2 linked regions of the Homo sapiens genome follow. The protein of the gene in region 1 interacts with the protein of each later gene in a pairwise test. Each region holds a gene or a part of one and is shown in the gene's direction. Other genes may lie near its edges.

Region 1 (7,303 bases):
GCTTGGGCTGGAGCAGGTGCTGGCACAAGCCACTCTGTCCCTGATGTTTTCTAGGGAAGTGTCTTTTCTAGGAACTCTGCCACCCCCTCATCCTATCCTCCAGCCGGATGTTTCTTCTGAGTTCAGACATTTTTCTTTTCCATCTTTCTTTCCCCAGGAATAACAAACGAGGACAGCAAGGCTGGGACAGGAAGTACATTGTCCTGGAGGGATCAAAAGTCCTCATTTATGACAATGAAGCCAGAGAAGGTAAATTAATAATTCAGGGGGAAGGTCATTGCACGTGGCTAACCCAGGTCTCCCCAGTGCTGGCGCGAAGGCTTTGTTTTTTGGACTGCCTTGCAAGCCTTCTACGCTTTTCCATTTTTGAAACTTACAAACCAAATGACTTCTCTAAAGGTTATTGGTGCGATACTCACATCTATAGGTCTCCCCCCTGAAGAACCCGCAGGGCGCTGCCCTGAAGATTCCACCTGCTAATACACCTTCCGAGAACTTCTGCCTCAGTCAACTAACCCATAAATCCGCATCGTCATCAGAAATTTGACTGTGCTACTCATCTGACACACTTTATTTTTTTTTATCTTCCCTCTCTGCCTTCTCTGCACACCTCTGTCCCTTCCTTGTTCTCGTGCGCCTCTCTTTACACACGTACCCTGTCTCTCTCTCCCTTGCTGTCTCTCTCGCTCTCTCTTCTCCCCTTGTTCTTGTTCCTGTTCTTTTGTTTTTCTTTCTGCCCTTCCTCTTTGCACCAAGCTGGACAGAGGCCGGTGGAAGAATTTGAGCTGTGCCTTCCCGACGGGGATGTATCTATTCATGGTGCCGTTGGTGCTTCCGAACTCGCAAATACAGCCAAAGCAGGTGAGGAGGAGCCGGAGGAGCCCCGCCCTGGAGGTGGGCCGGGCTTGGCCAATCAGCAGGGACAGAAGGGGTGGTACAGGGAAGATTGGCTCTGCAAAGGAGGCCCATCTTCCTCCGCTCCCCGCCTTGGCGGTAACTGGGATTTGCGTGGTTTGGTGGGCATCTTTGATCTCTCAGGCCCGTCCCTCCCAGTGGGAACGGGGGAAATCCACACCCAATCCTGTGCTCTCTGAAATCTCCTAGATGTCCCATACATACTGAAGATGGAATCTCACCCGCACACCACCTGCTGGCCCGGGAGAACCCTCTACTTGCTAGCTCCCAGCTTCCCTGACAAACAGCGCTGGGTCACCGCCTTAGAATCAGTTGTCGCAGGTGGGAGAGTTTCTAGGGAAAAAGCAGAAGCTGATGCTGTGAGTATGAAAGCGGGCCCTGGAGGTTGTCTTTGTAAAGGGGGCTGACTTGGTAACTGGTGTTAACGACGAGAATCCCATTGGCCATTTTGATTCCCCTCAGGCTCTCTCTCTGAGGGCTGATGGCTCTAGACTGTGTCATGGCCAGGAGTCTGGTGGTGATGAAGGCACAAGCACCAAGGTAGCTTGTGTGGCATCATGATCCATTTAGAATGTGGGAATCAGGGATGCGGTGGCTCATGCCTGTGGTCCCAGTGACCCAGGAGGCCAAGGCAGGAGGATCACTTGAGCCCAGGAGTTTGAAACCAGACTGGGCAAGATAGCAAGATCCCATCTCTTAAAAAAAGAGAAAGAAAGAAAGTTAGCCAGGTGTGGTGACATGCACCTGTAGTTCCAGCTAGTAGGGAGGCTGAGGCCGGCGGATTGCCCAGGAGTTTGAGGCTGCAGTGAGCTACGATTGTGCCACTGTACTCCAGCCTGGGCAACAGAGCGAGGCATGGACTGTAAAAGCAAAGGAAAAAGAATGGGGGAATCGGCATCAGTAGCCTACTCTGGTGGCATTGTAGACCTTGGTTGTGGTGATGCAGCAGCAAATGTACTTATAAGGAAATCCTCTCTCCTGTTTACTCAAATGAGTTTGTCTGGTTTGAAGGCTTGAGTTAGAAGCACTTTGGCCACGAAGCAGCACAATAGGCTGCCGGCAGCTGTGTCCCCTCCAGGAAGGCTTTTCATAAGCATCTCAGTTGTTTTTGCAGTATTTGCTCTTCCGTAGGCAGGTTTGGAGTCCTACTTATCCTTAAGCTGTTAGAAACGTAGGTGTGCTGTGATTGGCATCACCCCACCTAAAATGTTCCAGGATACAAACAGTGCTCATTGCTCATTGACGTTTGCTCCAGCGAAGACCAAACAGCTCTTTTCAGACTCTTCACTCCTAATAAACACTTTATGTGTTAGCAATTGGCAGATTCTTAACCACAAGCCTCCTGAAAAGGGCTTTACTCAGTGGTTAGACCTGTTTGGATGACTTGTTGGTCGTTTCACACGTGAGCTTTTACTGAAATCCTTGTTAATATGTGTACAATAGGCCCGCGACTGTGTTTCTTACGAGCTTCTGCCTGCCTGGGTTCAGGTAAAGAGATGCAGAGGCGTGCTGGCTCGCTGCTAACACGGCGCCTTTGCACTTCTGCTGCAGCCTTATGGGGGAAGGAGTCTTTCATGTGTCTTATTAACCCTGCGCAGGTGAAATCTCCTTAGCTTCAGCTTATTTCTTATTACAGAATAGCTTTCCATGTCTACTACCCTCCCTTATTTCTGCATCCCAGCCAAATTATAACTCAGATGCTAATTAACAGCTGCCCCAGAGATACCAATAGCACTCGCATTTTGCATTTGGAGCTCAGATCAAAATACGGGCTGAGCTAAGAGCATATGTGCGTTTCTGAGCATTTCCAGGAATAACTTGGCCTTAACCTTCTCTTGGTTTCTCTGGATGGTTTGGTCATAAACAGATCAGCCTCACGATGTCTTCTGTTTTTCTTTTCTTTCACCTATGAAAAGAAACTGCTTGGAAACTCCCTGCTGAAACTGGAAGGTGATGACCGTCTAGACATGAACTGCACGCTGCCCTTCAGTGACCAGGTAATGCTTGCATGGGCACGGCCAGCTGGTGTCTGGTTACAGCCACACCCCATCAAGAAAGAAAGGGCTGTGGAGGCCTTGTTGCTCTTACTAGAGATTGTTCTGGTGACGTGACCGTGCTTATGTTCTGCCTTCGGACTTCTGCCCTTGCAGGTGGTGTTGGTGGGCACCGAGGAAGGGCTCTACGCCCTGAATGTCTTGAAAAACTCCCTAACCCATGTCCCAGGAATTGGAGCAGTCTTCCAAATTTATATTATCAAGGACCTGGAGAAGCTACTCATGATAGCAGGTGTGAGGCCAAGGACATGGTGTTTTTTCTTTACTTTCAAGGGAGCCAATATGTTGAAGCCACGTTTCATGCTCGTAAAACACAAAATAGTAGAGAGGAGCCGTTGTAGCTCTTATCTCTGTGTCCCCATAGATGCCCAAGCCTCAGCTAATGGACCCCCTCTGTCCAGATTCAGTTCCCTTCCAGTATCCAGTTTAGCACAGTCTGACATTCCCAAAGAACATCCCACTGTTAGGCCAAGTGAAGAGTGCTAAGCCTCGAAGACTATCTAAAGCCAAACCCTTTGTCCTGATTGCAACGAAACCACCGTGGGCCCTGACCTTCTGAGAGCTTGCTTGCTCTGTTAACTCTGTGATCTCTCTCAAGTCACCATTTGCTAATATTTTGTCATAATTTTTTTCTCTGTCTTCTTAACACACACACACACACACACACACACACACACACACACACACACACACACTCTCTCTCTCTCTCTCTCTCTCTCTTTCCTGAACCATTTGAGAGTTAGTTGCAGGTATGACGCCAAGTTCTTCAGTATATCAACCTAAGGATTGAAGACATTCTGTCACATAACCAGGGTACAGTTTATTTCTCTCTGTCTGTGTTAGTGACATTATTTTTAAAGGGGAAAAGAGTAATATATCGATTCAGTGTTCAAAACAACAACAGTTAGGTCTTGTTTCAGGCATGGCTGGATCCGGGGACTGACATACTATGGACAAGAACTGGCCTTTCTTAATCTCAGCTCTTTTTCCTCCGTCTCTTCCTCTCTTCCTTATTTTATTCTTTAGAGCAGTTTTAGATTCACAGCAAAATTGAAAGGTACAGAGAGTTCCCATATACCCCCGTTCTCATATATGCATAGCCTCCCCCACTACCAACATCCCCCACCAGAGTGATACGTTCGTTAGAGTCAGTGAACCTACATTGACACATTGACAGTGACACATCATTGTCACCCCAAGTCTACAGTTTACATTATAGAGTTCTTTCTTGGTGGTATACATTCTATGGGTTTTGAAAAACATATAATGACATGTATCCACACATAGAGTATCATATAGAATAGTTTCACATACTATAATTTCTGCATTTAGGAAATTTACCCTTACTATAATACAAGTATCCGCTATGCTGCCCATAATTGGATTTTACCTGTGGCTTCTATAATGTCCCAGAATTTGCATTGCATTTAATCATGTCTCTCTAGTCTCCTTTAATCTGAACGGTTCCTCAGCCTTTTGTCTCTCCTGACATCCACATATTTGGATAGTCCAAGTCTGTTTTTTCATAGAATGCCTCCTCATTCCTCCCTCACACATTCGTTCTTTACTTTGCTGGGGAGCATGTTTGAAAGTACAGTTCACATTCTCCAATTTTATGTCTGCAGAATTCCACCCTCCTCAGAATCTTGACTAAAAGGCCAAATGTTATTGTCTTAGATTTAAATCATGGACTTGGGCCGGGCGTGGTGGCTCACGCCTGTAATCTCAGCACTTTGGGAGGCTGAGGCGGGCAGATCACAAGGTCAGGAGTTTGAGACCAGCCTGACCAACATGGCGAAACCCCATCTCTACTAAAAATACAAAAAAAAATTAGCCAGGCGTGGTAGCATGCACCTGTAATCCCAGCTACTCAGGAGGCTGAGGCAGGAGAATTGCTTGAACCCAGGAGGCAGAGGTTTTAGTGAGCCGAGATTGTACCATTGCACTCCAGTGTGGGCAACAGAGCAAGACTCTGTCTCAAAAATTTAAAAAAAAAAAATAAATAAATCATGGACCTAAAATGTGTTTATATGGATTTGTGGAAAACTCAGATCATCTGTGTGGCCTCTTGTGACTTTTACTTGTGACTAGAACTAGAACCACCATCCCGTACCTTTACTTAACGGCTTCACACTGACGAGAGGTTGTTCCTTTTCCTGTTCAGGAGAAGAGCGGGCACTGTGTCTTGTGGACGTGAAGAAAGTGAAACAGTCCCTGGCCCAGTCCCACCTGCCTGCCCAGCCCGACATCTCACCCAACATTTTTGAAGCTGTCAAGGGCTGCCACTTGTTTGGGGCAGGCAAGGTAAGCTCCCCTCAGAGTCCTAGCTGGTGGAATGTTCTGGAAATTGACACTACCTCTCTTCCCACAGAGCTCGTTGATTTGACCTTCAAGATAGTGTCAACTTAAATAACAAACAGAGAGGGGCTCTCTTGAAAGAAAAGAGATTGATTTGGGAACAGGGCTTTGCAATGGGAATACACGTGCCATTGTAAACTATGTGGGTATCTAGGGAGATAAAGGAAGACAGAGGTTTGTAAGTGAGGATTCCATAGTCTTTTTGAAATAATTATCCTTGGCTTCAAAGATTAATAACAAGACTGACGCTTGTCTAAGGTTGGACAGATAGTCACTGGGCGGATGTCCTTGCAGAAGTATTTTTTGTGTAAGATTGCAATGGCCTGGCCGGGCGCGGTGGCTCATGCCTGTAATCCCAGCACTTTGGGAGGCCGAGGCAGGTGGATCACGAGGTCAAGAGATCAAGACCATCCTGGCCAACATGGTGAAACCCTGTCTCTACTAAAAATACAAAAATTAGCTGGGCACGGTGGCGGGCGCCTGTAATCCCAGCTACTCGGGAGGCTGAGGGAGGAAAATGACTTGAACCCAGGAGGCGGAGGTTGCAGTGAGCCGAGATTGCGCCACCGCACTCCAGCCTGGTGACAGGGAAAAAAAAAACAGATTGCAATGGCCTTTGTGGTTTTCGTCGAGTCTCTTTTTTATCAGGCACACAAGTGTGAGAATCCTCTCTTCATGGCCTCCTCCTGCTCTAATGTCAGCGTTTTGTTAACATTGGCAGCTCCATTTTGATTCTGACAACTTTCACAATTGTACATCCTCAAACTAGGTTAAATTTCTGTTGCCTCCTTTAGGCACGTGAAATAATTTGTGTAGCCATGAAATTTGTACAGGTTTTGAATCTAAAATAAATGTCTGAGAGCAAAATGGGAATAAAATTAACAAAACTAGAAGGATGATCCATAATTTAAAAATAAGTGTGTTTGCATGTGCGTGTGTATGTCTGCTGTGTCTGTGAGAGAGAGATGAACCTTAAAAAAAATCTAATGTGGATCTCCATGTCTGAACTAGATGAAAGTATGTTTCATTACTAGAAATTTAAAAATTCGAATTTATGACATTTACATAACAAAGTTCATGAGAACTCAAGTTAATTCATTTGTAGCTTCTGGCATATTGAAAAGTGGCACATAAAATACCTTTGTTTGCTTCTTTAGTCAAAAAGTCAAAAAATAACAGATGCTGGTGAGGTCGTGGAGAAAAAGGAACACTTATACACTGTTGGTGGGAGTATAAATTAGTTCAACCATTGTGGAAGACAGTGTGGGGATCCTCAAAGACCTAAAAATGGAAATACCATTCAACCCAGCAATCCCATTACTGGGTATATACCCAAAGGAATATAAATCATTCTATTATAAAGTCACATGCATGTGTATGTTCATTGCAGCCTACTCATAATAGCAAAGACATGGAATCCACCTAAATGCCCATCAATGGTAGACTGGATAAAGAAAATGTGGTACATATACACCATGGAATATTATGCAGCTCTAAAAAAGAATGAGATCATGTCCTTTGCAGGAACATGGATGGAGCTGTAGGCCATTATCCTAAGCAAACTAATGCAGGAACAGAAAAACAAATACCACATGTTTTCACTTATAAGTGGGAGCTGAATGATGAGAACACATGGACACATAGAGGGGAACACACACACTGGGGCCCGTCAGAGGGTGGAGGGTGGGAGGAGGGAGGGGATCGGGAAAAATAACTAATGGATACTAGGCTTAATACGCAGGTGATGAAATAACCTGTACAACAAACCCCCATGACATGAGTTTATTGATACAACAAACCTGCACATGTGCCTGTGAACTTAAAAGTTAAAGTAGAAAATAATAAAAAAGAGTGTTTGCGGGTATATATACATGTACATGTATAACTTTAATTAAGTCTGAATCAGGTGTTTATAGACCCCCTGAGGCTACTGGCGTTCTGCTGTTGAAAACCATCGCATTTTGACCCTCAGAAGA
Region 2 (3,276 bases), on another chromosome or scaffold:
AAGAAAAGAGAAATGAAGTGCACCATGAGGCGCTGGAACAGGTTCTCAAGGCCACATCGCCACGGCCAGAGCTGTGTGGAAAATGCAGAGTTTATGTTCATGACCTTCAGCTAACTTACTTCACTAGTAAGCTTCTCTGCGCCATTCCATGCTTGCTGTGACCCTGGAAAACCTGAATAACCAGTTAACTCTTGCTTGCAGTTGATAGTGAAGATGAATCACTTCGTTAGCTCCACTCTACACTTCTTTGAATCACCTCATGTTAAGTGTTTGATAACCAGGGTCTTCCTTTGTTAAGATCAGCCTTTAGCATTTATTCAGAGCTCTAACACCTCTAATGAGCCATGAGAGTTGGGCATCTTAGGGATGGGCTCTGGACTGCAAATAGTTATGAAGTAATAAATAAGGCAGTTTACATTTTAACAACTTTTTTTTTTTGCAATGACACTTGGAAAATTCAGTTAACATATCAGCAAACGTTTTGCAATGTGTTATTATTTTGTGGTATTAGAAGATGCTAGCTAACTTTCCCCCAAAGTCTTATTGCTGGTTAAAATCCCTTCTTTTGCTTCTCAGGGGGCAAATATGGCCAAACAGATTGGAGCAGCTACTTATATCGAATGCTCAGCTTTACAGTCGGAAAATAGCGTCAGAGACATTTTTCACGTTGCCACCTTGGCATGTGTAAATAAGACAAATAAAAACGTTAAGCGGAACAAATCACAGAGAGCCACAAAGCGGATTTCACACATGCCTAGCAGACCAGAACTCTCGGCAGTTGCTACGGACTTACGAAAGGACAAAGCGAAGAGCTGCACTGTGATGTGAATCTTTCATTATCTTTAATGAAGACAAAGGAATCTAGTGTAAAAAACAACAGCAAACAAAAAGGTGAAGTCTAAATGAAGTGCACAGCCAAAGTCATGTATACCAGAGGCTTAGGAGGCGTTTGAGAGGATACTCATCTTTTTGGAATCCTGACCTTAGGTTCGGCATGTAGACCAAGTGATGAGAAGTGAATACATGGAAGAGTTTTTAAGTGTGACTTGAAAAATATGCCAAAAAATGAGAGATACAAATGAGCTAGAGGAAGATGAGGGGGGATGCGAGTACCTCCAAGAAGAAAAATCACACTCTGAATGGTGCTTGCATTTTTGGGTTTTTTTTTTTTGTTATAATCTATTCATGGATCTCCACTTTGATTTAATTTTTAAATGTTTTAATCTCCTTTACAAAAAGTATACGTTAATATACCGTCCTCAAGGGGGAACTGGCACTGTGACCTTAGCATTTAGTTTTCTAGAGGATGTGATCTAATTTCTTTCTAGCTCATCATTAAAAAGGAAATTGTATCAGGACCCATGGGATATATCCAGAGGCAAACTTTATGAGGCTTTGAAATCTTGCCTTCCTGAAGATAGCTGAGTAGGATGGTTCTAAGGAAAGCCTTTGCAATCTTGCAAGATTTGTAGACCAGCACTACAAAGATCGCATAGATCAAATAGGAAAAAAAATGTCGATTTTTATTCAGTCTGATGGTTCTGTTCTTCATTGTGATTGTCATTAAAAAGTGGTAAATTGCTCAATGTAATATTTTTGTGCGCTGTTTAGAAGTTGTGTGATTTTTTGCCATCGTTGATAAAAATGCAAAGTCAAATAAAAGGTGTCTTGGTTTGATGTCATAGAATGATCCAAGGAGAGAAAAAAGGTAGTTACTGTTTTCACCAGAAAAGGTAATGAGTGAAGGAAAGAATAGTAGCAGAAAGCACAGTTTGTGAGTAAAGCTGTCTGGAATTAAGTTACCAAAAATACAAAGCAAAAGGACTATTATTTTGGGTTGAAGCTCCAAAACTGACAGCATCTGATAATCTGTTGGTTTATTTCACTTTTCATTAAATGAACATTGATGAGAGAAGATGCCACTTACCCAAGCTTTAGAGAATCCCTAGTGGAAGATTATATGATAAACTTTCAGTCCTGACATAACACTAGGGCATTTCTAGAGTGTCATTGCTAAAACCTCACTGAACAGATGCAGCCAAGGTCTGTGTTCAGCACTTGGTCTCTGTTGTTACGTAAAATAATAAGCATTTAAAATAGTTTACAGATATTTTTGACCAGTTCCTTTTAGAGATTCTTTCAGAGAAGAAACCAGATCTGACCTGTTTATTGTTGGCGCTTGTTGAAAACGAGCTTTCTTTCCCATGATAGTGCTTCGTTTTTGAAGTGTTGAAGCTGTGCTCCCCTTAAATCGTGGCAGGAGAGATTAAGGTAATTACAACACTCAGTTCTATGTCTTACAAGCACTTTGTCTTGTCTCTGCAAGAAAATTCGATTCCAGTCATTTCCCATAAAATACAGACATTTTACCAACATAATATGCTTTGATTGATGCAGCATTATGCTTTGGGCAGTATTACAAAATAGCTGGCGAGTGCTTTCTGTATTTAAATATTGTAAAAAGAAAATAAGTTATAACTGTTATAAAGCAGAACTTTTGTTGCATTTTTTAAACTGTTGAAGTCACTGTGTATGTTTGTTTGGTCAATGTTTCCGCAGTATTTATTAAAACATACTTTTTTTTTCTTCAAATAAAAAAGTAACCATGTCTTTGTCTAAATGTGATCTGTCTTTTATTATCTACTTCCTGATTTAGCTGTTTAGCTTTGTTCTTTAACATAGGTGATTACAGAATCTGGCCTAACGTTTTCTGAACTAGAAGGCTTTGGAATTTTTTGATTCTTCATAGTAGTAACAGATAAACCTGCATATATAAAAGTTTTCATGATGCTTTCAAATCACAAGAAAAAAATGGGGCATAATTAGATTAAGTGATTTGATCATATACAAAAAAGAGCTATGATACTGCCTAAGATTAACTTGTAGAAAAGATGGAAATCCTTCAAGTCTTTAAGAATGAAGCAATATGATGCAGTCTCAAGTCACAGGTTTAATACTAATATAAGCCTAGTTTGCCTCTCTGCCCTGTGGGGTCCTAAGCCTTGGTCCTTAACCCATGCCACCTCGCAAGGCATGCCCTTGTTCACAGCAGTTGTGGGGATGACCCAGAACACAGCTTTTGCAGCAATTCGTGGAAGGATAAATAACACAGCACAACATAATACAAGTTACCCCACTGATCTGGGAGATGTACAGTAAGCATGGAACAGCTTAAAAGAGAGGACTATCTCCCCATAAATCCAGTTGATTCTCAGTCTTCAGCTAAAATACTTACATATAAGTTTTACATAAGTGTCCAAAGATACTCTGTGGGAT

Evidence for each region.
Region 2: the proteins of CIT (region 1) and RND3 interact in a two-hybrid assay, tested with the Homo sapiens proteins (one study listed by BioGRID).

Annotation. Positions count from the first base shown.
Region 1 is NC_000012.12:119,706,149-119,713,451, reverse strand, and holds part of CIT (citron Rho-interacting kinase), read left to right. Parts: intron 1-157; coding exon 158-249; intron 250-756; coding exon 757-861; intron 862-1,104; coding exon 1,105-1,274; intron 1,275-2,358; coding exon of another isoform or gene 2,359-2,403; intron 2,404-2,831; coding exon 2,832-2,912; intron 2,913-3,065; coding exon 3,066-3,201; intron 3,202-5,133; coding exon 5,134-5,273; intron 5,274-7,303. UniProt on the Homo sapiens protein: Plays a role in cytokinesis. Required for KIF14 localization to the central spindle and midbody. Putative RHO/RAC effector that binds to the GTP-bound forms of RHO and RAC1. It probably binds p21 with a tighter specificity in vivo.
Region 2 is NC_000002.12:150,467,539-150,470,814, reverse strand, and holds the end of RND3 (rho-related GTP-binding protein RhoE precursor), read left to right. Parts: intron 1-576; coding exon 577-828; 3' UTR 829-2,620; downstream 2,621-3,276. UniProt on the Homo sapiens protein: Binds GTP but lacks intrinsic GTPase activity and is resistant to Rho-specific GTPase-activating proteins.